Linked DNA regions of Homo sapiens. The protein of the gene in region 2 interacts with the protein of the main gene of each other region in a pairwise test. Each region holds a gene or a part of one and is shown on either strand. Other genes may lie near its edges. The genes, in order: RGS6 and STMN2.

The links.
Region 1: the proteins of STMN2 (region 2) and RGS6 interact in a two-hybrid assay, tested with the Homo sapiens proteins (one study listed by BioGRID).

Annotation. Positions count from the first base shown.
Region 1 is NC_000014.9:72,450,263-72,465,200, reverse strand, and holds part of RGS6 (regulator of G-protein signaling 6), read right to left. Parts: intron 10,674-14,938; coding exon 10,623-10,673; intron 6,931-10,622; coding exon 6,824-6,930; intron 5,570-6,823; coding exon 5,518-5,569; intron 5,345-5,517; coding exon of another isoform or gene 5,209-5,344; intron 508-5,208; exon of another isoform or gene 484-507; intron 1-483. UniProt on the Homo sapiens protein: Regulates G protein-coupled receptor signaling cascades. Inhibits signal transduction by increasing the GTPase activity of G protein alpha subunits, thereby driving them into their inactive GDP-bound form. The RGS6/GNB5 dimer enhances GNAO1 GTPase activity.
Region 2 is NC_000008.11:79,602,548-79,618,225, forward strand, and holds the start of STMN2 (stathmin-2), read left to right. Parts: upstream 1-8,569; 5' UTR 8,570-8,648; coding exon 8,649-8,667; intron 8,668-15,678. UniProt on the Homo sapiens protein: Regulator of microtubule stability. When phosphorylated by MAPK8, stabilizes microtubules and consequently controls neurite length in cortical neurons.

The DNA.
Region 1 (14,938 bases), on a different chromosome or scaffold from region 2:
CTTTATGATCTGCTCACTGCTTATCTCATCAACTTCTTCTCCCTCATGCAGGCACTGTGAGGCCACCAAACTCTTTTCAGCTTCATTCTTTTGCATATGTGTCCTTTTTGAGGAAAGTCTTTCTCTCTTCTCTCCTTCCCTCTATCTGGCAACCTCTTACTAATCTTTGAAGACCCAAGTTGGTGTTTCAGATAGCATCTACATGTCCTTGACCATGGAACTAAATTCCATTGCACTGAAATCCTGTATTTACTAGACTGTCCCCTGCTCTAGGCTGAAGTCTCTTTAAGGGCAGAGGCTATGTCCTGCTCAGCTTTCATCCCTGTTGCTAGCACCATAGCCTGTCTTGTCAGGTGCAGTAAAAAGGCTATGGAAAGGGAAGACAATTTAGGTCTCTCAACTCAGGCTAAGGAAAGGTTCTTGGCCCCTGGTTTCCCTGTTTCTTCCTCAAACATGGCCTTCATCATCACTTCTTCTCCCTACCTTTCCTTCTTCAATGTCTTCCTCCTTCTCCAGAGCCAAGTGGAACAATCCAGGGAAAACAGTAGATGAATGGCATAAATAAATGAACAACAGAATGATCAAGAGGGAGGGCCAGAGAGAACCTGTGATCATTTTGTTGTTGGACAACAAGATCTCTTTACTAAGAGATCTCTAGTCAACTCTTTGCTGGATCAACCAACTTCCTTCATTTGTTCTGAAAAATTTACTGATACCTATGACATTTTGGAGCCTGGAAGCTAGCAGCCTACCCTCTGGTATGCCCACACTTCTGCTTCCACCCGGCGAATTGTGTGCTCATAGGAGTCAGTTGTGGTTGTTCCCAAATCTGCTTATATCAGGCACATCTGTTATTTTAATCACACAAGTTCACTAAATATCACACGTCTCAATGAAATTAATGTGAAAAGAGAGAGAGTGTTGCTTCTATGAAAACTCAGTTGAATGGTTTGGAACAATTTAATGAAGGAGAGTTAGCTAAGGCAATTGCTGGTGAATTTGATACAGGTGAGATAACAGGAAAAAGTAAGAAAAATAATAAAAATCTAGGAGGGGCCAATATACAAAAGACTACAAAAATGTCTTTACATTCTTGATGCACTTTAAAGATACCAAAACAGGGTAGTTTATTTTGAGTGCGGTTGATTTAAGAAACTAAAATTATTCAGCTCATAATCAAAGAGAACACTTTGGTCCTACTTCACAAGGCTGTCAAATGAGTGTTCCTTTGTATATCTTACCTTTACATGAGGTGCTTAAGGTGTGCATATGTCGTTTTAAAAATGATTTTCTACTTACCAACTTTTCCAATGAACCAAGCAGCTATAGTGCTTCACTGTGTCTGATAAAGGGGTGTCCGATCTATCACAAAGTACCTCCTTCAGTCTCTTGGACCCCTGGCAGAATTAGGGACAACCTCAGGCAGGAAGCTTGACATGTCACCAGCTCGACTGGGCCAGGTCATGATTACCTTTGAGCAGTGCAGGTCAGTGGAGGTGGCAGCTGCTTTGACAATGCTGCCCTGGACAGGATTTTGCACTGGCCAAATGTAAAACTCAGAAAAGGCTAACCTGGATTTGACTGTGGGTTTTATGCAGGCAGAGTCATCCCAAGAAATGTCCAAATGGGTAAGCGGGGTCAAAATGGGACAGCGGGGTTGTGAAGTGAGTTATCATGCATGGAATGCAGAGCTGGGGCCACTCCTGATGGCCATGAGTCACAGGGTCACATGCTACTAGCTAATGTCCCTGTGCCTAAAGTCACACAAGGAATCTTTTCACCACAATGAGGAAGGTGGGATGTGGCTGTTCTTGGCACAGAACTCCCTGGGGCTTGTCTGCATCCCAGAGTGCCCTCACTAGGGCTTGCTCTAACTTCCAACCGACTCTAGTGACTACTGGTGACAATAGCCAGCCCTACAAGAGGGCATCTGGAAGAACTGTCTTAAGCTCAGATATTGGTTTCTCTTGGATATTTAATTTCTTACCGAAAAATTTCTATTTCCTTGTCCTTACATCTGGCATTCCACCCTTACCTATATCTCACATCTCACTCAGAGAAATCCACTGCCATCTCAAGTTCACCATGTGTCACCACACAAAACTGGGACATATTTAAAAATTGTATAAAGGGAACACATTCATGTATTATATGTGCAATTAAATTTCTTAAAAAATATTGAGCTTATCGAGTTTCAATGTACTGAAGAAACTGACCCCTTTCTTTACTTTCTGCCTTTACTAGCAACATCATTATGTACCTCAATCTCCTAAACTAGGGAACCTATAACTCACTTATTTCTCTATTTTCCTCATACTTTCTGATGACTTTTTAGAACCAAAGAATTTTAGACTGGAGGTAACCTTGGCAACCATCAAGTACAGGCCCCTCATTTACAGATGGGGAAACTAAAGGCCCAGAGAAATGAAGTGATGGACCCAAGGGCTAGTTAGTGATGGAGATGGAATTAGAATCGAGGACCAGTGCAGAGTTTCCTCTATGACATTCACCGATCCATTTATTCATTCAGTCACTCATTCAAAAATGTACTGAGTGTCTCCTATGGGCCAAGTACCGTTTTAGGTGCTGGAAAAATCACCATCGTAGCAGCTACTGCTTCCATTGAGCCCACTGAATATCAGGAACTATTTGACTAAGTCACAGCCCTTACTTAATCTTCCACAGTCCACTTAATCCTCATAATAACCCTACTAGGTGGGTTCTGTTATTACCCCCATCTTATAGATGAACCAATTTTTTCCCAAGTAGGGAAAAAACTTGGGAAAGTGTGTTCATTGTTGGGGACCCACAATAGCTTCCCCAAACTGCTGAATCCATTCTAAATGTCTCTACTTGACTGCCAAGGCCTTTTTATAAACCTGCCCCTCCCAAGCTATTCAGCCTTCTCAGTCATTCATCACATAAAACCTTTGAATACTCAAGCCAGATCCTCACCATGCCTTTCTTCCCTGCATCATGCTGCCTCTCCCAGCCTGGAATGCTTGCGGGGAAAGGCTGTGACTTATTCAAATCTCTGACATAGAATTTGACAGAGTAGGGACCAGTAAACGTTTGTCAATTGAATGAAAGTTTCTGGTACTTCATCAGTCCAAATCATACTATATTGAATTCTTAGCTTCAGTTTCACATGCTTCCTGGTGAGACGGTCACCTCAGTCATAATAATATCAACCAACATCCCAGTGGCAATAATACCGACCCCACCCCAGTAGTGATACCAACCACCACTCCGTATTAACTCAGAGAACCTTACATGCATTTCATTTAATCCTAACAAAACACTAGGAGACAAGTGCCATTACTACTCTAATTTTAATATGAGGTCTCTGAGGCACAGAGAGGTTAAGTAATTTGCCAAGATCACCCAGCTAGTGGAACGGGTTGATCCTGGGGGCTCATTGTGCTGGATTCTCTCTTCATAAATACATCCTGATTTTCTAACTAAACTGCTTTGGAAACCCTGGGGAGTACTGGTTTTTCTTTGTTTTAGAGACAGGGTCTTCCTCTATCACCCAGGCTGGAGGGCAGTGGCACAATCATAGCTCACTGCAGCTTTGAACTCCTGGGCTCAAGTGATCCTCCCATCTCAGCCTCCCGAGTCACTGGGATTACAGGTATGCACCACCATGCCTGGTCCCTGGTGAACACTTGTGCATCCTGAACCTTGATTTCTCCCTCTGATTTGCCATAAATTGAGGCACAGGAATTTAAAATAATTTTTGTTTAATGAGAGCCTGAAACAAACTATTATTTCTCTCCCTGTTCATGATGCACAATTAAAATTATAAAATGAAGAACACCTGTAGAACAGGGAGATGATGCCCTTTAGTATGCAGCATAAGATGCCCTAAGCTTTACGGAAGTAAATATTTTAATCTTACTTGGGCCCAGGTATCTGGTCTTACCATCCTCCCACCCTCTCCACTGCCTGGAAAAATACTGGTTTTCACATTCACAAGGGCACACGTTGCTGCATGGAACTGAGCTATAATTATTCAAATTCTGAGTTGGGCTTTCATGAGCAGTCTTTTCAGCCCCAGAAGCACTAGTTTTATGAGCGGTCAAATGCAGCTCTCACTTGCAGTCGGAAGTCTTCCTGGATCCACTTATCACATTGGTTAGGGTGCAGCACAGTGTCAGAGGGCCCACAGTGGTGCCTGTGGATAGCCAAGCAGACAGCCCCAGAGCCTGCCCTTCTGCATGACTGACGTCCTCCACACTTGACCATGGAACAACTCCAGCCTTAGTAGGTACAACTCGCTTGTATTCCATCCTCAGCTTGGCTCCCTGTTGTTGGTTTCCTCTTGCTCAAACGTGTGACTCCAAGGTTGTATCTTATCCCATGGGTCTCCCAGACAGGCTCCCCTGATCACCACCCAGCTGCACATCTCCCTCCCACTCACCACAGCTGCATCTGCCTTCTTGTCTTAAACAATTCTGCAAAGAAGCTGCAGGTCTCATTGAGTGTCCCAGTCCCAAGGAGAGCCACAGATGAGACTGCCACAGCAGCTGAGTCAGCAGCAAGGATGCATGCAAAGGGGCAGTGCTGCAGCTACAACCTTCAGGCATGTCACACATGGGACCGTGAAAGAAGTATGGGTTTTGGAGCCACTCAGATCTGAGTTCAAGTTCTGCTCCCTCTAGTGAGTGTCTGTTGGTCACCTTCAATAAAGAACCAGAACTGTCAGTGGATATTTACTGAGCACTAATTCTGCCTCAGACATAGGCTATGCCCTGGAGATATGAGAATGCATAAGCTGGACCAGCCTCTGCCCTCAAGAGGCTTATAATCAAGGGAGCATTCAGACAATGTGGTAGTGTGAGGGTGTGGCCCCTCTGGGCCTCAGGTTCTTTCTCTTAAGCATAGCGATAATAAAACTTCTTCAGAGAATTGGCATATAGGAATATTAAATAATCTCCACTGAGAATATCTGGCAGAAGTCTTGTAGGTCCCTGTCTAGAGAGACAGAACTCTCAACTTCACCCACTCTATTTTCCTAGTCCAGAGTGACTTCTGTATACTCCTCCCTGGTCTCTGTCTCTTTTCTAAATTGCAACTGTCAAGAACACCAAAAGGTTCTTAGTAAGTTTTGACAAGTCTATGAGAACAGAAAGGGCCAGGAGGAGGTAGCCCCTTGATCCAGCCCTCCCTGAAGCCCTATCCCTGGAAAGAACAATTAAAAGTCACCATCTGATAGTGTTGCTGTGGGATCCTGGTTCTCCATGGCCCCAAGATGAACATACTGACCACCCTTGATAAGATTTTTCTTCCCTCTCCTGCTTCCCCTCCAAGGACTACATCTTTCAGTAAGCTGGGCCTTCCTCTGTTATGTGGAACAGGAGATTTGTTATATAGCAACAATATGAGAAAGGACTAAGCAGAAAGGACCCTCCTCCCCATGTACCACCATGGCCCACACCAAGCATTTGTCTTCTGCACCCCCAGAAGTGACACACAGTGTTGAAGTTGAGAGTTCCCAGTGGCTTCAGTTCTCACCATAGTCAGTGTTTTCAGGTTCCCAGCAGTTCGAAGGCCAGAAGTACGGAGCCTGCAAAGGAGCATGGGTGTTAGTGCTCAGGGGCGCGCCATGCCTGCGCTTCCCTCCCACACCCAGGGAGGAGCCTCCCTGATGGCAGGCTCTCCCCCATCTCCTTCTTGCTGATGCTACCCCACAATTCTCTCCTCTTCTCTAATTCAGCTAAGGTGAGTCAACATTTTAACCTAGGCATTGAGAAGCAAAATGTAAGTAAGCAAAACAAATGCAAAAATGTTAAGTTTTGTTCACAGGGCAATATATTCTTATCCTGAGACAATAGAGGTCTAAGTACAAAAGTCAGGCTGGCATAACTTACTGGGCACCTAAGCCCATGTTCCTTTCCTCCCTTTAACCTAGTCTGAAGAACTCTTCTCCCACACCCTTTGGTTAGACCTTGATTCAAGCCCATATCCTCTGCCCTCATTCCCTCTACGGAAGGATCTGGGAGAAGGAGTGTGAAATGGGTGGGGAGGGTGATTAGGTCGCAAATAGAAACTTCACTCCGAGAAGGCAACATGAGACAGTAGAAAGATCAAGGTCTGTGCTATCAGGCTCACTTAGGTTCAGATGAAGGCTGCTCCAGGATTTACTAAATGACACTTTAATTCTTTGAGCAATTCAGTTTTCTCCTCTGTAAAATGGGTAATATTTACCCCCTAAAGTGTGCTCTTCAGAATAAATGAGGAAATCTGTACAAAGTGTCTACCATGGTCTGAATGTCTGCATCCTCCTCAAATTCACATGTTGAAATCCTAATCCCCAAGGTGATGGTATTGGGAGGTGGGGCCTTTGAAGCCCTCACAGGTGAGATTAGTGCCTTTATAAAAGAGGTCTGATATAAGCCCCAGGTCCTGTCTGCCATGTGGGGATATAGCTAGAAGGTGCCATCTATGAGCCAGAGAGCAGGCCCTCACCAGACACCGAATCTGCTGGCACCTTGGTCTTGGACTTGCCAGCCTCCACAACCATGAGAAGTAAATTTTTTGTTTGTTTGTTTATAAGATACCCAGTTTAGGTATTTTGTTGTAGCAGCCCAAGGGACTAAGGCAGTGCCCAGGGCATGGTAGGCTCTCAATGACAGCCTTTTACTATTCTCTAAGTGGGTCACCCAGTGGCCCAGAGAAAAGTTCTCTTGGCTTTCCCAGTGCTGATGAGGAGTGAGGGCTACTCCCTCAGATATCCCTAGGTTTTCTTTGTAGTTCTAACCTAAGATCAGATGATGTTGTGAAGAAAAGGTTCTTCAGGAGGAGGAGCCAGCAGGCTTACCTGGAAACGATAAAAGGTGCCATCATCCTTCATGGTGAGAACATGGTCTGAGATTGGAAAGATGTAGCCCTGGGCAGCGATAAGGCTCCCCAAGTGTATTGCTTCAACTGTAAGAACAGTGCATAGAGAGAGAAGGAATTAGAAAGCAGGTTATTTGGCTGAAAATTAAGCTGGGAGACCAGAAGTCAACTGTCATCACCCCCAGATGTCTGTGTTGATGATACAATTGCCCTTGCTCAGTGTGGGGGTGAGGAGGGGAGATGCCAATGGCTGGAAAGGGCAACTATGTGTCTGGGACTTGTCTGAATCCCACCTCTGAGAGTCTGACATGGCTTAACCCCTCCTCACCCTGACCTTCAGAAGAAAGTCTGGCTTCAGGGTCAAGGGCATAAGTTCTGGCATAGAAGAACCTGTATTTAACTAAGTGAGATATTTCACATGAAGTGATTGTCTGGTACAGGTCAAATACTCCGTAAGTGCTAGCAGCTCTGATTCATACCAGTTTCATCATCCCCAGCAGTAAGAATGCAGCCTCGCTGCCCATAGAGACGTAGGACTCCCAGTGCGTTCCCCAATATGACAGTCCCATCAGGAATGAGAAGGGTGTCACCCTTCTCTTATGGACAGAGAGGAAAACCTCACTTCCTTTGAAAATTAGAGGAAGGACACTGAAGTGGGCAGTGACAGAGAGAGGCTAACCTGATAGAAATACTTATATTTTTGCCACAGTCAATCTGTTCCTTCGTTCCTTTGGCACCAGCCATAAATAGATGCACATAGAAAGTTGAGAATATAGGTCGGGCATGGTGGCTCACGCCTGTAATCCAGAGGCAGGCGGATTGCTTGAGCTCAGGAGTTTGAGACAAGCCTGAGCAACACAGCGAGACCCTGTCTCAATTAAAAAAAAAAAAGTTAAGAATTTAGATTTATCCTGAGCAGAGCTAAGAAAAAATAACAAACCTCAATGCTTCTACCACACACAATCTTTCACAAATCCAAAAGTACTGTTACAGGTTAAAACTAATTTTTGGACATGGAAATTGTTAATGTGCTCAGGGAGCCTCTAGCAATTATTAATTTCACGAGCTCTGACTTTTTAAAGTAGTTTGTTTTGGCTTTACTTGCAAACTTTTCAAGAAGTTGAATACAATGCAATGTTTTGCGTATCAAGAACCACCTATTCTCCTTTGAAAGAAACATACATGTAACTGGTGGAATTGGAATGAATAGAGTTTTATTTTACTTGCTTAGTGATGACCAATTTGCTATTTTTTTTTTTTTTTTTTTTTTTTTAGAGACAGGTCTGACTCTTGTCACCCAGGCTGGAGTGCAGTGGCATGATCACAGCTCATTGCAGACTTGAACTCCTGGGCTCAAGTGATACTTCTGCCCCAGCCTCCCAAGTAGCTGGAACCACAGGCACATGCCACCACGTCTGTCTAATTTTTTTTTTATTTTTTTTGGTAGAGGTAGGGTTTTGCCATCTTGCTCAGGCTGGTCTTGAACTCCTGGGCTCAAGCAGTCCTCCCAGCTGAGCCTCCCAAAGAGCTGCGATTACAGGCATGAGCTACCATGTCTGGCCGGTTTGCTTTTTAAAGTCCATATGCTTCAAGAACCATGAGTCCAGCTAGAACAGAAGTTTCATCATCAGCAGTTGCTCCTTCCCCAGAGAAGAAAGAACAAAATCCTGTAGGAAGGTGACTTTCATGCCACCAGTCTTGGAGCTAAGACTCTAACTTCATTCTCTGAGCAAAAATGTTTTTGCTTAGACGTTGGCCAATGGGGCCAGGTGCAGTGTCTCACACCTGTAATCCAAGCACTGTGGGAGGCCAAAGCAGAAGAATTGTTTGAGGTCAGGAGTTCAAGACCAGCCTGGATAACACAGTGAGATCCCCATCTCTACAAAAAATAAAACAAAAAATTAGCTGGATGTGGTGCTAGGAGCCTATAGTCCCAGCTACTCGGGAGACTGAGGTGGAAGATGGCTTGGGCCAGGGAGGTCAAGGCTGCAGTGAGCTATGCTCGTGCCACTGCACTCTAGCCTGGGTGACAGAGTGAGACCTTGCCTCAAAAACCAAAAAATAACCACAGGAAATCGACTGATGGGAAAAAGAAGGGAGAGAGGGGCAGATGCTGGATCTGACTGTTTCCCAAGGCCTCGGTTTGCCTCATCTCCCCCCTTAGACTATTCCCAGCTGACAAATGGTTCTTAGCTTCTCCTCAGCCACTTCTCAGAAGCCCAAACAGGCCCCTATACCATGATGTCTTCCCAAGGGCATCAGAGTATAACAGATTTTCATAGAAATAACTCTCATCATTCAGGACCCTTCACAGAAGCTTCTCACGCCAGGGCTGGAGGATTCCTGAAGCTCATTCTCACATACTGCTCGCCAATTTAGGGTTCTCATAATAGTAATAATAAAATATATGTCAGAAATACAACGATTATTTTAGGAGGCAAAGAAACCAGTGCTCTTGGAAGAGAAAAGGTGGCCATGAGGAAACACGTTCCTTAGTTTAGCATTATAATCACAAGAAATACTGACTTTAGATAAATGTAACTAAACAGGTAGATGCTGATTCAGTCCAGGCTTTCCAAGCGGACACTCAGAAGTACAGGCTGCATCAGGGACAACACATAGTGAGTTGCTTTGGGTTCTATCCTTTACAAAGGGTTAGCATTTATAGTTTTTTCCCTGTGAATCAAGAACTTGACTAGAATTAAGAATTTTCACTAGTTGTGAGAGTAGCCACTAATCAAGGGGGTGAAAAGACTCGGGCCACTTCTATGAATGATCTGCTTTTCTGGCACTCAGAGTTCTAACAACTGTATATAATTGAACTGCATAGAAACTGTATTGTTTTGCAGTCAACAGATTAGAAATGTTGGGTTAAAATACAGGAGTGCCAAGCTGACACACCGATTCCAGCAGGGACTCACAGCTGAAGGTCACGGATGCAGAATGGGCACTTCAAAAAAATCTTCAAAAAGCATTGTGGTTCAGGGCCATTTAATTTGGGGCAGGTAAGTCTAATCACGCCAATGTCCATTAAGAACATCAGAGTGTATTAGTGGATCTTTATAAATGTGACCTTCAGGCATCAAGAATACTCAGTTAATCAAGGCAAAGGAGTATGTAATAAATTCGGAAAAGTATTAACTGACAGCACATGGGAATAAGCTTTACTTATCTTGAATTTTTATTTTTCTGGAACACCCCCCCCATTTCCTAATTACACTGTGAAAATAAATTTTACTGCCTATTTTCTGGTGGGAGAACAGACTGGGAAATTGTTTTATTGGCCAGGGTTCTGTTGTTGTTTTCCTGGTAAGGTCTTCCTAATTGAAATGCGCAATTAAAGTTGAAAAAAAATCATTCCTTCACTTCTTGCAGAAGCAGAAAACAGAGGGAGTCTTAGCAAATAATTAAACATCTTAATTGTGGATCAGGCAATCTAATTTTAAGAGCTGGCTCTAGAAGGCTGTTCAGTGACAGTGCTACAACTTATCTTTAATTGCTGCAGCTAATGAGAATTCAACTCATTTCACACATTATTGTATTGGGCTCTTTGGCATTCTAAAAAGTTGCTCATTTCCTCAAAGCATGATTTAAATTTAAAGACAAATATTCAGTGGAGAAAATAAATTAATTTTATTTGTAAATAGAGTGATTCCACGTCTTGGAATTCACATTTACAAGACCAGTTCTCAGGAGGGCAGGGGAATCTAGTTTGGAACTTGGTTATGGGATGTTTACTGATACCAGGGGAGATAAGGGTGGGGTCAAAGGTCAAGTACCTGGGTCCTCAATGGAAAGGTTCTTCATAAGCCACTGCACAATGTCAGTACCTGCAACGATAAAGCAATTTCAGCTGAAGACCTCCTGGGTGTTTAACACTGTGGCAGAAGAAACATGTTTACCTAAGAGAATCCTAATTCCAAACAGTCCACACTGTAGAGCAGGATAATATGGGCACTTTTTTTTGTCCTAACCAACCCTTTCCATTCTTCAGTACACTTCCATAGTTACAATTCCATTCTTGTCCAAAAAACACTCACTTCTGATGATGCAGGATGAGCTTATATTCATGTTTCTAGGAAGTGTCTATAGAGGACTTCCCTGAGACGTGCTAGGTGAAGCTTTATCATGCCTGGCCCCCAGACCATTTCTTGAAGAAGGAGGCCTCATCAGCTCCCTACCATCAATTACAAGGGCTGACCAACACAGGTGACCTCATAGGTTCTTGCAAAACTCTCATCTCTTCCGGCACAGGCCTATCCTGAATGAATGTGTCCCTGCATTTGTGGCAGAAACGTCTATGTATTCACCAAGACCTCTTTCCTCTCCTCACTGTGCCATAGCTAGATTACATTTCCAGCCTCCCCTGCACTTAGATATGGACTGAGTTCTGCCAATAGAATATGGGTAGAAATGGCATATGCCACTTCCAGACCTGGACCATAAAAACTCCTACATGGCTCTCCTTAGCTCTGCCCCTTTCAATCCCATCTACTGGCTGGATGTGGGGGACTCCAAAGACCTGGGGGAATGCAGAGCCACAATAGGCAGGGAGCCACGGTTCCAACCATGGACATTACGCCCATGTGGGGCTCTGACTTGATTGAGGACTGAAAGGACTGAACTTTGTTGTGTTAAGCCCCTGAAATTTGGGACTTAGCTGTTTTGGTATCTAGTATTACCTTAACGAATATAAATCTTAAGAGTCTGAAGGAACTTTTTTTTTTTTTTTTTTTTTTTTTGAGACGGAGTCTCGCTCTGTCGCCCAGGCTGGAGTGCAGTGGCGGGATCTCGGCTCACTGCAAGCTCTGCCTCCCGGGTTCACGCCATTCTCCTGCCTCAGCCTCCCAAGTAGCTGGGACTACAGGCGCCTGCCACTACGCCCGGCTAATTTTTTTGTATTTTTAGTAGAGACGGGGTTTCACCGTTTTAGCCGGGATGGTCTCGATCTCCTGACCTCGTGATCCGCCCGCCTCGGCCTCCCAAAGTGCTGGGATTACAGGCATGAGCCACCGCGCCCGGCCCTGAAGGAACTTTTAAAGCTTGTCTACTCCAACCCCAGCCAATACATGTCCCATTCACAACACCCTGGACAAGAGGTGCTGTAACCTGTGTTTAGAATCCCTAGTACCTGGAAACTCACAAACTCCCCCCTACCCAGCCTGACCCAGTTAAATCAGCCTTGATTTATCTGAACAGAAACTTGCCCCTCTCTGACTTCCTCCCTTTGGCCTCAGTTTTGCCATTTGATGATAGAAAAACAAACCCCAACCTAACCACTCTGTGCGACAGCCCTTCAGCTATTCAGACAGTCCTGCGGCATACCAGCGACGTCCTCCCTCCAAGTGCAACAGGCCTGGGTCCCTCAGCTGCTTCCTTGCAGGGTGTGGCCTGGAGTTCCTCACCATATGTTCCCAATCCTCTGAATAAGTTCCCTTCTGTCTGCCTCTCTTTGAAAATGTGACCCGCAAACAATGTTCTGAGAGCAGCACTGTGTACATGGCAGTAGAGGAGTTCAGTTTTCTGGAAGGTTCTGAATTTCTGGTCAATCTACCTTTGCCACCCAAAGATCTCACTTTAAACCAGTGCAGACCATTGAAGGTGTGGCTTTGTCACCTCTAAATTGTTTGATGGAACACAGCCTGCAAGGGGAGACATTTTAGATATCAGAGTCCTACCGTGGGTCTGAGGCTTTGGTGAGAGGGAGGGGATGTGCCAAGAACTCTCCTGGGCTGGATTCCTGGCTGAAGGCCTGGGGATCCAGCAGAGGGGCTTCATGAGGATTGCCCTCTTCCCAGAAATCAGTTTTCTTAGATATGTGACTGGTGGCCAGAAGTGGGACTGGTACAGGACAGAAAGCCTAGACATTTTGTTTCTCTCTGGGTCCATGGCAGGTGAAGTAACCCTGCACAGTGGGACCCCCAGGGCCATCCTCATCCTCCTGTGTGCCCCAGTTCTGCCGACACAGCCTTGCAATTTTGCAGTTTCCCCGCGCCAACCTCAAAGGCAGCACTTCTAGGCTTCTCCTCACTCTTGCTACTCCTGGACAGCATCTGTGAGTCAAACTTTAGATCAAAAACACTCGTATTCATTCGTATTCTTGGAGAGAGAGAGAGAGAGAGAGAGAGAGAGAATGAATATGTGTGTGTGTACATGTGCCTGTGTGTCCCTTTCCTCCAAGTTATACAAGTTCAACATTTGTCCCAGGAAATGAAGAACAAAGCAGAAATCAAATAAGAACTGTAGTCCCAAGCTGGGGGTGGGAGAGATACTCTAATCTGTTTTTTCCTCAAAAGAAAAATAGTTCTGGCCAGGCGCAGTGGCTCATGCCTATAATCCCAACACTTTTGGAGACCGAGGAGGGTGGATCACGAGGTCAGGAGTTTGAGACCATCCTGGCCAACATGGTGAAACCCCGTCTCTATTAAAATACAAAACATTAGCCAGGCGTGGTGCCACATGCCTGAGTCCCAGCTACTCGGGAGGCTCAGGCAGGGGAATTGCTTGAACACGGGAGGTGGAGGTTGCAGTGAGCCGAGATCGCGCCACTACACTCCAGCCTGGCCACAGAGTGAGACGCTGTCTCAAAAAAGAAAAAAAAAATAGTTCTTTTCTGTGGGTTGCCTAGAAACTGTGAGGTTTCCTGCATTAGCTGAGTTCTCCCCCAGGCCTGCGGATTATCTTTCTGCTGAGCTTGCTGAACCATTATTTATCACCTGCCAAGATTGATTACTCACCCTGGGACAATGACAGCCCTTCCTTTCCCCTGTTAATTACTGTCATCATTAATATCCATGTCACTAATTAGTATTCATTCACATTGAAACTCCTTCCTTGCTATCATATCCGCTCCCCCCAACCACCCCAACCCCCGGCTCAGCACCGTTGTCTGGGTTTCCACCCGCTTTTGGCTTCCTGTGCTCAGCCTTTGGCCTAATTGTTCTCCCCAGTCCACCAGGCCGTGGTTTGCATTTACAGAGCTAAAGAATCACATTTAAGCACTTTTGTTTCTAAAGAAGGGAAAATCACAAAAACCCATTTCCTTTTTTCCCTAGCCCCATGGAGACCACAGAGTGGAGTTTCTTTTCCCTGGTTCAGCCACCATGACAGCTGCTGTCTCATCTGGAGACTGATGCAACAGTCCTCAGGTCCAGGCAAGGGCTGAGCGGCTGCCCCTGGCTGCCTGGGACACTGCACTCAATCTGCAGTGGCATCTACTCCGCCACCATCCCTTCCATGCCATGGCAATGCTTGGTAGACTCCATTTCAGCACAAGCAACAACACCTAGAGACAGGGGGACGTGCTCACTCTCACAGGCATTGGGTATTCCAGGCTTCCTTGGACCAACCCAGGAGTGGCCAAGCCTCCAGCCCGTGGCAGGGAGTAAATCATTGTGTGTGCAGCCCCAGGAACAAGTCAGAAAGGGAAATCTGTCATAATATCGCGTCCTTTAAAACATTTACAGTGATTACGCTGTAGCATCTGACAAGAGTAGTCCAAACATCCAAATCACCAGCAGGAGAAAGCATTTCCATTCTTTTTTCACTTTCCTTTCTTGCCTCTTTCCTTCCTTCCTGCTAACCCACGATCACCCTTTCCTTCCTGTTCTAAAGAGAATTTGAAGCGGATTCCTTTTCTGTTCTATCTAAGATTAATTGTTGCCTTGTTACCACGACTGGTTTCTGGATCTTATCTTAGTCAAGCTGCTTTGCCAAGGACTTAAAGTTAATAAAACAACATAACAAATGCTATGTTGAAACAACATAACAAATGCAGGATGGCCACCCTTTGTTCCCACAGATCCTAAAACACTGTCTGAAAGCATTCTTTTTGAGGCTGATTTATCAATATATATTCCAGGGATATCCAGGATATACACCAGACGGCACCCAAAACACCTCTCCATTGCATGCGTGTTTTATTAGTATATTTAAGGATATATTTATGATATGCAGTTATGGGTTATGTTTCTGTATGTGTTATATGTATTTCAATTATGTCTTTTATATCTAAAATCATGTTTATTAGATGACTGGGAACAAACCAAAGGCCTCTAATAGAGGACTGAATAAATAAATTATGGCTCATTCATGC
Region 2 (15,678 bases):
TTCTATCTCTAACTCCAGTCTAATGCCACAAGATTCTTTCCTACTTTCCCCAATTCCATATATGTAGTTCCTTCTTCCCCAGTGAGAACATTGGCTCCCAACAATGAGATTATGTTTACCCATTTTCTTAATCCCACTAGATACATAAAATAGTTCTAGAATTTCCACAGCCATGCTATACACACAAGAAACTATTAAAGAGTGTTCGAGATTTTTTTGCAGGTTTTTTCATCTTTAAGGATATGTAGCAAAGCGCTGTTTAAAAGTATAAACTAATAATATTTAAAATCATAACAGTTAATATTTACAGAAGAATTCAATATATCTTATCTAAAAGTTCCACCCTAGCCTTAATGATAATGTAATCTACATCACTAAATCCCCATAAATTCTCACTTTCCTTCTGACCACATTACCTTATTACATTCTGATCTTGTCAGGTGTTTTGAAAATCTAATGTCATACACAAGAGTCGTACCTAACAGGTACAAACTGCATTTCCTAAAGAGACACCAATGAATACAACCCTACAGAATACACAACCAGTAGACATTATATAGGAAAAGACACCAGTGAGAGTCAGCCTTAGAACTATATCGAAAAGGGCCATTTCAAGTGTTTCGAGCCGCTACTGCTGCTTGTAAACTCCAGAACACAGGACCCATGGACTTATACTTCTTAATGCAAACATATTAAGGATCTTACAACATGAATATCCATCCCCACTGGATATCTAACCCTGAGCTCACTAAAAGGCCTCCAAAAGTAAGAAACTTACAGAAGTAGATCATTGAAACAGACAGTTGCCACCGCTGCAGACACTGCCAATTGCACAATTTTTTATATGGCTCAGGCACATATAAAAAATATTAACTCAAACACATCTATTCCACATGCCTCAACTTAACTGTAGGTCCCTCCTCACAGTTGCTACTGTTACTTATATATCCAGAGCCTCAAAGTCACCTATGGGAGGTAAGGATAACAAGGAACACGTGACTAATAATGCAACTTATGATTGAACTGTTTTGTCATGAATTAATTCAGAAACTTCACGACTTGTTTAAATTTATGTAGAATGTTTGTTCTTTGCAATTAGACCAAATACATTTAGGTGGCAACTGATACCAACTGATTATTTTCATGTCCCTTCTATATTCACCCAAAAGATTATTTTTCCTATTTAATTAGATAGGCCTCTCATGCTAATGACATCAAAATGTGACCTATTCTTTGTCCAGATCATCTTTGTAAGGACTAAAAAAAAAATTCTACTATTTCTCATATTTTGTGGGGAGCCTGACATGGTAACTTACCAGAAAATATGCAAGACACCAAATATCAGTAGTGTTTTTTCTTTAGACTGAAATGTGTGATCCTCATTTTATAACTAGGACCAAAAAACAAATAAAGCAGCTCAAGTTTGAGAAGTCCAACCAACCAGCATAAATGTATTGGCTAGACTAATCTAGCTAATAAAATTTTTCCTGACTATTTACAGGTCAACCATCTATTGAGTCAATACAGTAACCAATACCTGGATAAACACTTCAGGAAAAGTGGAACCATTAATTTGATTTTTTTAAAAAAAGCATAAATAAGGTTGCCCAAACTGATCCATGGGACTTGTTCTCCTAGTTGGTTATAGGCCATTTCAAAACTAAATACAAGATGGGATTTCAAACGTTTCTTTTGACATTTATAATGGTCCTCATTTTCTTCTGAATGAGATGCAATTACTTTAAAAATTACTATAGTGCCATTATGCTAGGCTGACACTCAGCTATATCTGAATCCATATAGGCTGCTATGACAAAAATACCACAAACTCTTTAGCTTTTAGACAACAGAAATTTATTTCTCACAGTTCCGAAGGCTAAGAACTCCAAGATCAAGGTGCTGGCAGATTTGATTGCTGGCGAGGGCTCGTCTTCTGGCTCATACATGGCACCTTCTAGCTGTATCCTCACTTGTGATAGGAGCCAAGGCAGCTCTCTGGGGTCTTTTGTATAAGGTCACTAATCCCACTCATAAGTCACCCCCGCTCACGACTTTATCATCTCCCAAAGGTGCCACCTCCTAGTACCATCACCTTGGAGGTTAGGATTTCAGCATATGAATTTGAGTGGGGACATAAATATTCAGTTCATTACAATTCTGCATCAAAAAGACTGAAGCTATCACAGCTCACTCAGCAGACTTTGGCTAAAAGAGGAACAACTTTACTGTAGTAGAGAAATGGTGCACTCCTAGCTTAACTAAGGTGAAGGGCTCAGCAGAAGTCCAGCAGAGTTCAACAGCAGCCACACCTAGAAATAAAACATCACTTTCTGTCACTTTTAGTAACAAGATTTCTCCAAAGCCTCATAAATAAAGTTGCCTTCTGTGATAACTGCCAGTCTGCTTTGGGGAAAATGCTCTCCCTGATAGGTTTTAATTAATCAGCTTGCCCATAGACAAAAAACAATATTTCACTGTTCCTCAGGCTGCTGTAGGTTTTGTTTTTATAAATCCCCCCTTGTCTGGTTTCATGACTGATCTCCAGCACATGTGAATAGATATCAGCCATGCTTTTAATTAAACTGAGTTATTCTTTGGTGAGATGGTCCTGAATTTAATCAAGCTTCAAAATTGACTTTCATTTACAGAGGACAGGAACAAGTTAAGTGACCACATTGGAAGCAAAGAGTCACATCCAAAATGTAAGAAAGTTCATAGGACAATTGACCCAGTTTCTACAAAAAGCCAATGGTGGGAATTTTAAAAATGAAGGGAGGATTGTACCAGATTAAAAGAGATTTGAGAAACATAAAAGTGAATAGAATATGCGGACCATATTTGGGTCCTGTTTTAAACAAAGCAACAGTATTCTTGAGACAATCATGAAAATGTGATTATAATTGTTAAGTATTTTAACAGAATTGTATTTATGTAAGAAAGGTTCATGTTTTATAGAGATACATACTTAACTACAAAGAGTGAATTTAAATGATTGTCGTGACTTCCTTTTAAAGTTTTCAGCAAAGATGAAAAAGGAAAAAGAAACAGAAGCAATAAAGTTTTGGTAATTTCTTAACTTGACTAATACAAGTTCATTATTTGCTTTCTTGTGTCCATTTGAAATAGTTTATGACAAAAATATAAGTACAATATTTTTATATTTTGATGTAAATATTCAAGCTATTGAAATCCTCTTTCCAAAAGAGGACGTTTCCTGCGCATTCTAAATAAACCCAAATAACACATCTGCAAATCTCTGGGCAATTTCTTTTCTGCCTCAAAAGGCAGCATTTGCCGCCTAACTGCACATTGCTCTGTTTTTGCTGAACTGAACTAAAAAGATAGGTGTAGTTCAGGAAGTGATCAAACCAAAAACAGAAAAATCCATTAAATATGTGACGAGAGGAAAAAAAAGAGTGGAATGGGGTTTTGTTGTCTCTAGTTGAGTTCAAGTTTAATGTGTTTTTTTTCTTTTTTTTTTTTTTTTTTTTTTTTTTTGGAAACGGAGTCTCGCTCTGTCGCCCAGGCTGGAGTGCAGTGGCATGATCTCGGCTCACTGCAAGCTCCGCCTCCCGGGTTCAAGCCATTCTCCTGCCTCAGCTTCTGGAGTAGCTGGGACTACAGGAGCCTGCCACTATGCCCGGCTAATTTTTTCTATTTTTTAGTAGAGACGGGGTTTCACCATGTTAGCCAGGATGGTCTCGATCTCCTGACCTCGTGATCCACCCGCCTCGGCCTCCCAAAGTGCTGGGATTACAGGCGTGAGCCACCGCACCCGGCCGAGTTCAAGTCTAATGTTACTGTCAAAGTAAATATTTGATGAAATTGATTTTTAAAAATACTACCTACATCCGTTAATTCAATTCCATTTGATAACACAGCAGGATGTGGGTGGGGGAAGTTCAGAGGGTCAGAAAATTAGTTAATAAATGACTAATGAGAAAATCTCCCAGGAAGGCAGTATACTAAAATGCTTTTGCTTTTCTCTTCCCTAAATCCTCCTCCTCCTCTTTTCAGCTTGATTTAGAAAAATAAGGTTCTTAGGCAACTGTTATTGTATGTATAATGCAATGCTCACAGTAGGGGTTCTGTTTAAAAAATAAAATAAATTGAGGCTTGTGGGATAAACAGAGTGAGTCACACTTCTCCCAGATTTCTCTTCCAGGCACTTCAGTGTTGTCTCCACTGTTTGGTTTGTAAACTAAGATGCTGAGTGAAATCTCAAGGGGAACCAACTTCCCAGCTTCAATGGTGTCCAACTAATGTTCTCCCTGGACTCAAGCTGTAAATCAACTCATGGAGAGAAGGAAAAAGTTAGTTACAGTAATTGCTGCCAAGATAGCGAGTAGTTTTCAACATTATCAATTTAATGTAAAGATTCAGCTCATTAAATTTATATCAAGCCTTTCTTATGATTAGAACAAGTTTATTTCCAGAAAAGTTCAATTATAAAACTATCAATAGGATTTACTAATTTCAATAAGTCATTTTGCTTCAGGGTGAATTATACTAATTATTAATACATACAAGTCCCATTTGGACATAAAGAAAACCCTAGGTAGAGAAAAAATAATAATAATTAACTAATCATTGTTTATTTTTAAATAACTAATTTAAGAAGAAAACAATGAAGTGTGTTTGTTCCACACTTCAGAAATAACTCTAACACACTGGCAAATTCCTGAGCAATACAGAGCTCACTGCTAATAAAGAACACCAACTCTCCCTCCTTGGAATGACTTTCCTTTTGAATAAACCATATTAGACAGTTCTATTAAAGGACACATGATCCTTTTTATTTTTCATTAATCTATAAGAATTTAAACATGGCAAAATAATCAAAATGTTAAAAAGTCAACTATTTTTTCATGTGTGATTATTTTAGATGCATCTCTAAATATCTTCAGCTATAACTACTTTATATCCTAAATTTCTAAACATCTAAAAAAATTCAATGGATTTTATCTCTCACATTTCTTTTGTAATCACCTGAGGTCAGATCAAAACAATTAATTTGACCTTAACAATGTTTCTCTTATCTCACTAACTTTTAATAATTACTTTAGGATTCTTTCCCAGGCACTTGATTATGAATAGCAGAAAATCATATGACTGTGTTAGATGGCATCAGCTAATCCTCCAAAGCAACTGCTTCTCTCTGGTTTGGAAAGAAATCAACACCTCAGGCCTCCTCACAGAGATAATACACACTAGGCTATAACCCACAATAATTAAAATTTCTGTTAGCAAGTCTGTGATTTCCACAGCTCCAGCTTACTGCTGGCTGTTAAAGATAACAAAAATTAACAAGGGCCATCTACTATTGTGAGCTCTACTCATTTAGGTTCTTTGGGAATAGGGCAGGATATAAATAAATAAACACTGGTAAACAGCCTAATACCTGCTCCCAACACAAGCTAAGCAAAGGAGGTTAGAAGTGTCAATATGGTCTCACTGGATTCATCCATTTTGAATCATTTTCAACACTGTATTATTTATTATTTCACAAATTGTTTTTAACTGTCTACCACGTGAATCATGAAACCAACCACTAGGAAGGGTATAAAGATATACACTATTCATTCTCTACCTTTCAAAGGTTTAAATGTATTGGAAACACTAAATATAGTCATAGTACTTAAAATTACTATATATCCATGATGGCTTAGACAGTTCATACATGATAACCCTTCAGTCTACCCAAATCCCCACACGACAGATACTGGTTGTCCTTAGTTTATACTGTGCAAATGTAGTACCTATTCTTTGAGTGTCCACCCATTCCCATCAAAACCATTTCCTTCAGGAAAAGCTGATCTCACCTCCAGACCTCTAGGGCCAACTCTATCTATATGGTTAGACGAAACAGCAAATGCACTTTTATTATTAGTGCCAGTTTGGGTTATTTTTTCAAATTTTTGCAACAAAGTGTGATCCACAATACACAAGATCATATTCACTCCCCCAAATTAATATTTTCTTAAAGAGATGGGTGTTATATTTTCCTTCACTTTCTATTTTTCAGACATTAAGGAGAAGCTTGGCTGGCATCACAAAAGCCTGAAACATCATCAAATAAATATTTGTTGAATAAATTAGCTGAACAAATGAATAAGTGAATAACATATTGAATATGAAATAATTTTTCTGTTCATATTTCACCCTTACTTTCCCATGTGAATATGCATGATACCATATTGTAATGATAAAAGAAAACAAAAAACAATTTGATAATGGCACAGCCCTTTGAATTTATTTGTGTTTTCTTAGCTGATTGACAATTTTGCCTACTATCTTTTTATTCTATGGTAAATCATATTGACCTACTCTCTTCCCTGTTTGACATTATTTAAAAATCATTCATAACTGAAGTTAGGTGGCTAACACCTAGAAAATCGGAAATAGAAAAGAGTCACATATGTGACCCTTAGGGCAGTAGAATGAGTGTTTTGTTTTCCTCATAGTCATCAAAAGTGCAATCGATTTCATTCAGCAGCCAACTGCAGTTGTTAAAGAAACTAATGCCATGACTTAGGGCCCTTGTTCTCCAAGGAAGCTGAAGAATGTGTAGAGATGACACACAGCCTGAGGGGAAAGGGTGTGGTGGGGAGAAGAGAAATACTTTGAAAATATTAGTCACACAGACATGCTGAAGATCCTTCACCTCATGAGTGATAACTACTCCAGTGAGAGGTGATTAACTGTTACATTTAAAGTGGGAAATGCCTATATATAGAGAGAAAATGGTTATTTATTTCCAGACCCTGCCAACTTCCATATTGCTCTCTTGCTGTGTCATAGTCACAGACCTGTTCAAAGATAGGAAATATAATTTCTAATCTTCCTGTTCAAGAAATAATTTTATTGATCTCCACTTCATCTTTTATTTTCCCCATGATTCAGCAGGTCAAAACTGTTCCAGTTCCAGTAGCATCCTATCAGTCAGCAAAATGTCCATGAGGTTAAAATGTCTTACAAGTTAATAGGAGGTGAAGAAATTCATTTCAGCACCAAGGAGAGTGCCCTGCTATTTTCAATTGGTTTTATGTATTTGAAACTGTGTATTGTTCCTGAGGATAGAAAAAAAAGTTGAAATGTGATTGGACAGAAAGCTGCTAAAAACCTATTTTAATAAGAAGAAAAAAATACATTCATTTTTCTGAAATTAAAAACTTGCCAGGGTTTCATACCTGTTCATGATTGCAACAATGTGCTCTTCTTTTGGCTTTCAAACGTCGGAATTAGCAATTCTTTGCCTATTTTTCTAATATTAAAACCAGTTTCTGCATGGAATTAGACTGGCTCAATAAAGTTACAGAAGAGTTAAATTAGCAGTAATTAAAAACTTCATGCAGCAACTCCTAAACTTTTTCTCACCATTTTCAGAGCTGTGCACATGGTAAATGCTCAATACATATTTAAGTCAAGTGAAAGAGAACAAATGAATGACTGGCATCCATTAAGTGAGAAGGAGGAACTAATAAATGCCTTGTTTGTAATGAAAGTCATTTTTTGCAACTAGTCTCAAAGATCCTCACATACGACATTGCTCAATCCGAAACTTGAACACAGCCTTCCTGGGCCTACATAAACGTAGTCTCTCTGGATCTCAGAAAAATAATGACCCAGACCACACCTTTCATCTCTTCTAAGTTTTCCATGTAAAGCATTCTCCTTAGAGCCCTGGAAAGGTTACTAAAATTTTGACCCACTTAATCCTACACCTTCAGGGCAACATGGCATTCACCTGTGGTTTCCTTAATGCCCAAACCAGCCAGCCAACCTGTTTTCTGCCGTGTTAACAAATGGACAGGACACAGGCACCAGAGGTTAAACTTTCTTCCTCTTCCCCCATGTCCCCAGGTGGACCATTATTACCATCCCTATTCCCAAGCAACCAGGTAGCCCCTTCCTCTGTGCCAAGGGAAGAAAACACCATGCTTCCCTCTCCTGAGAGACCTTCAAGAGTTTAGAGACGCCTAAGTCCAGCTGTGCTAAAAGATAAAGGACAATAATGCAAGTCTGCTCTGAGCTGCCACCATAGCCAGACATAGGGTAGCCCTGAAAGACTAGAACCAAGGACAGAGCCAAAGGTGAAAGAAAATATGAAAAAGTGAAAACACAGTATTTAAACAGAATTTTCCAACAGCCTGCATATAGTGAGGACTTCTCAAGCTTCTGAATCCTTTTCCATTGAATTGTGCAATGGCACATGTATGAGCAAAGTCAAGCCTCCTGGCTCCCAGGTAGGCACAGCCCAGTTCTTAGCTCCTAGGAAGCTTCAGGGCTTAAAGCTCCACTCTACTTGGACTGTACTATCAGGCCCCCAAAATGGGGGGAGCCGACAGGGAAGGACTGATTTCCATTTCAAACTGCATTCTGGTACTTTGTACTCCAGCACCATTGGCCGATCAATATTTAATGCTTGGAGATTCTGACTCTGCGGGAGTCATGTCAGGGGACCTTGGGAGCCAATCTGCTTGAGCTTCTGAGTGATAATTATTCATGGGCTCCTGCCTCTTGCTCTTTCTCTAGCACGGTCCCACTCTGCAGACTCAGTGCCTTATTCAGTCTTCTCTCTCGCTCTCTCCGCTGCTGTAGCCGGACCCTTTGCCTTCGCCACTGCTCAGCGTCTGCACATCCCTACAATGGCTAAAACAGCAATGGGTAAGGCACTGCGCCTCGTTCTCCGTCGGCTCTACCTGGAGCCCACCTCTCACCTCCTCTCTTGAGCTCTAGAAGCATTCAGAGATATTTTATAAAGAAAAAGATGTTAATGGTAACACAGGACCAGGAAGGACAGGGCAGTTCTGGGGGAGGTGGGAGGGCAGAGAAGAGGTCTATGGAAATCTAAAGCGAAGAATTTCTTTTAAAAGGTAGAAGCGGGTAAGTTGCCCTCCTATGGGTAGAGAATTTATTCTGTTTCCATATTTAAAATTAGGACTCAATCGTGAGGGGAGGAAGCTACCTTAACTGTTTGCCTTAAATGGGCTTAAGGGACATTTTGGAAAGTGCTTTATAACGACCTTTTTTTTTTTTATTTCTTCTCTAGTTTAAGAAGAAAATAGGAAAGGGGTAAAGGGAAGGTGGGAGAAAGGAAAAAGAAAATTGCAAAGTCAAAGCGGTCCCATCCCGCTGTTTGAAAGATGGGTGGAGACGGGGGGAGGGGATGGAGAGAACTGGGCACATTTTACGGTATTGTCTCGTCGAAGAAACCGCTAGTCCTGGGGTGCGGTGCAGGGAGGTAAGACGGCGGGGGACAGGGTGGGGGTAGGACCTCCGCTCCTTTGTTTTAGGGCAAGGGAGGGGAAGGAGAGAGGAAGTCGCGGAGGGCGTGGAGGGCGCGGGTGGGCAGCTGCAGGGGCGGGGAAGCGCGCGGCAGGGAGGGGTGGAGGGACAGCGGCTTCGAAGGCGCTGGGGTGGGGTTTCTTTGTGTGCGGACCAGCGGTCCCGGGGGGAGGCACCTGCAGCGCTGGGCGCACAATGCGGACAGCCCCACCCAGTGCGGAACCGCGCAGCCCCGCCCCCCCGCCCGGTGCTGCATCTTCATTCGAAAGGGGGTCGGGTGGGGAGCGCAGCGTGACACCCAGGAGCCCAACCCTGCGGGGACAGCGGCGCCACGCCCCGCGCTCCCCGCTCCCGACTCCCCGCCGCGGCTTCCAAGAGAGACCTGACCACTGACCCCGCCCTCCCCACGCTGGCCTCATTGTTCTGCTTTTAAGAGAGATGGGAAAAGTGGGTTAACATTTTTCTTTTCGGAAGCAAATTACATAGAGTGTTTAGACATAGACACAGATAAAGGGTTCTTTGAAGACCTTTGATCGTTTGCGGGAAAAGCTTCTAGAACCTAGACATGTGTATGTATAATAATAGAGATGACATGAAATCGTATATAAAGCAAAAGAGGTCAAAGTCTTAAGTTAAGCCACGCGAAATTTCCGTTTTGTGGGTCAGACAGTGCCAAATATCGGCAATTTCATAAGCTCAGAGAGACAAGACAGTGGAGACACAGGATGACCGGAAAAGATTCTGGATTCAGGGCCTTCATCCGCAATTGGTCTTGTGCCTTGAGTGCCCACGGTTCTGGCGCTCAGTGGCCCCGGGGTGAAAAGGCAGGGTGGGGCCTGGGGTCCTGTGGCAGCTGGAAGCACGTGTCCCCCGGGACTTGGTTGCAGGATGCGGAGACAGGGAAAGCTGCCGAAAGGACTCCATCTGCGCGGCTCCGCCCTGCCCTACCCTCCCCGCGGAGCCGGGGAGACCTCAGGCTCCGAGACTGGCGGGGAAGAGGAATATGGGAGGGGCAGTTGAGCTGTATGCAGTCCTGGAACCTCTTTTTTCAGCCCCGCAGTCCACAACGGCCCGAGCACCCCTTGATGTGCGCAGACCCCCGGCGTGGCTCTCAGCCCCAGCACCGAGCCCCTCCCAGCCAAGCGGGTGGCTCTGCAGAAAAGCTGGCTCGAGCCCCGCCCGGCCACACAAAGGCGCGGCCCCACCCAGCCCGGGCGCGAGACCGCAGAGGTGACCCCCTTCCCAGGGATTCAGGGAGGGCTGTCTCTTCTCGCCCACCCACGGTCCGCGGAGCTCGGGGCTTTTTTTCCCCCAGCCCAAGCCCCCCGCCCACCCTCTGTTCTCTATGATTTTCCAGAATGGAGACCCCGCGAGGGGCTTCTCTAAGGGAGACCCTCGCTCCTCCAGCGGGGCGCGGCTCGGCCCCACCCCTCCCAGCTGAGGCCCAGAGCCGCCTACCGCTGGCCGGGTGGGGGCGCACGTGGCGACTGGGTGTGTGGAGCGCAGCCAGCCCTGCAGAGCCCCGCGCCGCGCCCTGCGCTCCCCTCCCCGGAGTTGGGCGCTCGCCCCCGCGGTGCAGCCGGGGAGACCGGTTTCTGCGCAGTGTCCTGAGCTACCCCCGCTTTCCACAATTCGCAGTTCACTCGCACGTCCAGAAAGGTTCTGAGAATGGGTGGTGGGGGCGATCTCGCCTCGCTTTCTGCACCCCTCAGAAAGGTTTCCGCTGCAGGCTAGTGGCTGCAAACTCATCGTCATCATCAGTATTATTATCATTTCAAATCGTTGTTATTATTTAATGATTCAGTAGCCTTGTTTGTTCTCATTTGTTCAAAAGGGACGTGGATTGCTCTTGGTTAAGGATTAACCCTTGTTGCGTTCGCTTTGCTTCCTCCTAATTGCCCTCATCCCTTTCCCCCACAAAAAGGTAAATTTGTCTCCAGTTGTTCATTTTAAGTTATAAAGCAAATATATTTTTGCTTCCTGCCAGGATTATGTATGTTCATGTGGCTAAGATACATGTGCAAGTGCTTGCTAAGAGCAGGGTTTGTGTGCCAACGATTGCTGGAAAATTCTCTGCAAAGAATTGTTTGTGGCTGCAATGGGTGAGAATACACATATATAATTGAGATGATCTTCAACATAAGGTTATATCTATAAATATATAAATATAGTTTATGCACAAAATTTTAAGTTTTTTCCCCTGAAACTGTTCTTCCAACTGCTGATTCTTGATACAGCCTCAATCCTACACAGATACATGGATCGTGAAATGGTAGCCGCCATCCAAATAAAAATCCCACCCCAAATATGACAAACGCAAGCATCCTTTCTGGCCATAATTTAACTGCATTTGCAAATCATGAAAAAAACACTACTTCTGCAGTATTAAAATAATAGATTTTGAAATTAATTCCAATTTCAAAGATAATTAATTATCAGGGCGAGTGCTTTTTTCCTGATTCATTAAACAATTATGTATTCAGCATGATTGTAAGAGGTGCATATAATATTCCCCATTATCTTTTCTAATGAAGTGGGCACCTTCTGAATGGATATATAAGTAACTAGAAATGAAAAGCTGAGGATTTGGTCAGAATTTCAGGATAAAACTGAAAGAAATGGCAGTAGTTTATCAATTAATCTCATGTATTTAGTTTATACCAGGTGAGTAAGCTGAGCCTGCAATAAACACTCTCTGTCCCAGTGTAACACGTCGCAGGTAGCTAGAATGATAGGATAAATTAATAGACCTTGTGGTGTTTGTCTATGCACGTTAAAATTCTCTGAGAGAAAGTATATTTTAAAATGATAATTAAGATTGGACATTTGTGCTATTAAAATCTACAACTTTAGTCAAAATTCACAATGGTTTTTTTTTACAATAATGTGACTTACAGATTTGTAGTAAATTATTCTATTCTAAAAGAGAAATGAGTGTTTTTATTGTTACAGCTATTACCTCATTAATATTTTTAGCAAACTTTTATTTGTTGCATTGAAAGCAGTTTTAATTACTTTGGGTTTTTATTTTTCAAATTACTAATGGATAGATGGTGGAATAAGCATTTAATCATTTGGCACAATATGACTTCCATCAAATAGCTCATTCTCAGTGATTAAAAAATGCTACAAGAGGCTACAATTTACTCAGATTCAGGAAATGTCCTTTCAGAGTGCCATAAGGCTGATTCATATAATAAAATAGTTTTCTTCCCTATAATTTAAGATCAAATAGTTACTTAGTTCTGTGAATACCTAGCAGTAGCTATCAAACAGAATTTTAAAGTTAAATCTGTACAACTAACAATGAAGTGGAGGATGAATCGATACATATTGAATGGAAGACTTTGTCATTGATAAATTCAGGCCATCTTTAGGAAAATTCCGGATTTATCAATCACCATTATTTTTTACTTCAACTGAGTGTGACTGATCACATGCTCAGGCTACCTTGGTAGCTCATTGCTCACAGGAGGCTGAAAAAAGCTGGCCTCCGAGCAGGAGGAAGCTCAGAGCACAAACCTAGGCCTGGGCGTGGCCACTGGGAGCTGCTGATAGCGAACCCCAGCTCACACCAGTTTCTTTTTTGGTCGTGGGAAGAAAAACACATATTATCCTGTTGTCACAAGATCTGTGACCTTATATGAAAAAATGCTAGAATTTTTTCATTAAAAAAGAAAATACTGAACTAGCCAGTGACCCAGATGTTTTCAGAACCTAGACTGGTTCTGTCCATTGGAAAACCTCGGTGTCTGCATTAACTTTTCACCACACTAGAGGGCAATCATGTTCTCTAAAAAAGCAGATGATTGATGTAAACCTAGTTCCAAATATTAACTGTTTAATAAAATCTTTTCTTTTACCAGGAACATTCAAGTGTTTATTCAATAAGCTGATGCCATGCTTTACCCTAGTGGATGAACAGAGCTTGTACAATTTTCAAGGAGACAGGATGAAATGAGTGGTCATAATCTGAAAGTAGATACACGCCCTGGTTAATTATTCCCTGATGGTTTTACTTCTCAGTTTTATTACATTGTTATTATAATACCATTTATGTTACTTCTGAGATTTTGTAGTGGATAAATAGTAGAAAAATGTCAGTAGTAATAGCAAAGTTATTTAGCAGCCGAATATTTTAATGCTTAAAAATAAAGGAATAAATTAAAGAAAATCATTGTTTACTTCTTCATCGATTGAAATGTGCCCCCTGTTCAGAGCACATCTGAATATCAGAGTCTCCACCTGCAGAGAACATGCAGCTTAGCGAGTAAAACAGGCAGGTATGTGATACTGAGGAGGTGTACCAAAAACTGACTGCTGTTATTTTTCCCATCTTCTAAGTCTGTCTTTCTTTTCCATTTAAAGATACCTTTTTAAATCTAATCCAATGTGATTTCAATCTAGTTTTATCAGATTTCAACAATTATTGAGCATCTCCTTGTAGTGGTTTTCTGTTTATTAGAAAATCGATGTTAATTTTAACGAAGTAAGAAGAAATATATAAGTATAAACTAATTTTGGGTATCATCAAAAGTGGATTTTTTAAATATGCATTGATAGAATTATTTTTTGATTACATTTTATGTAATTCTAATCCAGCTATAAAATATTTAATAGTGTCATATTACTGTGTTCCTCAAACTTTGATGTGCATATGAATTACCTTTGATTTTCATTAAAATGCAAATTCTGATTCAATACATCTGGCTTGAGGCAGACATTCTGTCTTCCGAACAAGCTCCCAGATGATGCTGATTCTGACCACTAAACACATCAGTTTTAGGGATATTAACTTGTAATATACAGGTATCCCTCCTGGTAAGCTCTGGTATTATGTCTTAACATTTTTAAATCTATGGTAATCTTTACAAAATATTTTACTTCCGAACTCATATACCTGGGGATTTTATTACTCTGGGAATTATGTGTTCTGCCCCATCACTCTCTCTTAATTGGATTTTTAAAATTATATTCATATTGCAGGACTCGGCAGAAGACCTTCGAGAGAAAGGTAGAAAATAAGAATTTGGCTCTCTGTGTGAGCATGTGTGCGTGTGTGCGAGAGAGAGAGACAGACAGCCTGCCTAAGAAGAAATGAATGTGAATGCGGCTTGTGGCACAGTTGACAAGGATGATAAATCAATAATGCAAGCTTACTATCATTTATGAATAGCAATACTGAAGAAATTAAAACAAAAGATTGCTGTCTCAATATATCTTATATTTATTATTTACCAAATTATTCTAAGAGTATTTCTTCCTGAATACCATGTGAGAAAATTCTTAAGAATTTATTGAGTATGACTGTATATTTGAAAAGAGTGTTTTCTTCTGCTTATCTAAGCCAATAAAGGATCTTCATTATTCAATTCTAACTTTCTAAGGAAGTCAACCTACAGATCAGAAAGAGGATCTTCAAGGAATAGCATCAAAGACATAGTCAGGTCTCCCATGCAGTGACTGGCTGACCATGCAGCCATTACCACCTTTCTGGAAATATTATGCTGCAAAAATGATACAATACACGAAATATCTCAAATTAAAAAATATAACATTTCCCAAATAGGGCACTAAAAACATGATCCCAAATAAAACTAGCTTCAGGGTTTGCAGAATATACTGTTACTCAACACAAAGTTGGACTAAGTCTCAAAGTTAGCCATTCAGTTGTTGTTAACAGTTCATTTCAGGGTCTCTCAGAAGCTGGGAAACTTTCCATTTTTGCAATTTCTTGTACATTGAAGGAAAGGAAGACACACTTAAGACAGCATTACAAAAGTAATTCATGTTTTAAATGTTTAATTCTGGCAGTCGGGCAGGGCTCTCTGTATAACCTCATTTGGAGATGACAAAAATCTAAACTTGAGGGCCTCGAGCCAATAAGTCTTCCTATTTCTTTACTCAAACATTTTCCCGCAATGGTGCTTTCTTTCAACTGTTTTTCTGGTGTATTCATAAATTCCAGATTCTCTATGGGAAGTAACTTTTATTGATTGATTTAACCCTTGTATAGCACATATAACATGCAAGGCATTGTTCTAAGAACTTTCCACATATTAACTGTGTTAATCACTTAATAATCCTAAGTAGGTTCTATTACAGATATGGAAACTGAGGCACAGAAAGTTGAAGTATCTTACTCAAGGTCACACAGTTAGTCAGATCCAGAATTTGGGCCCAGGCCATCTGGCTTCGGAATCCATCTTTCACCGATTGCTGCTAGTCTCATATCTGTTCCATGTTAGAGGTGAGCTCCCATTGCAGAGGTCACACCTGTGATATCACCATTTTATTTAAACAGACCAGAGATGGTCTTCTCCTTTCTGATCACAGACTCACCTTGAAGAGAAAATACTTCCAAATTGATGCCTAGTTTTAATAGCTTAC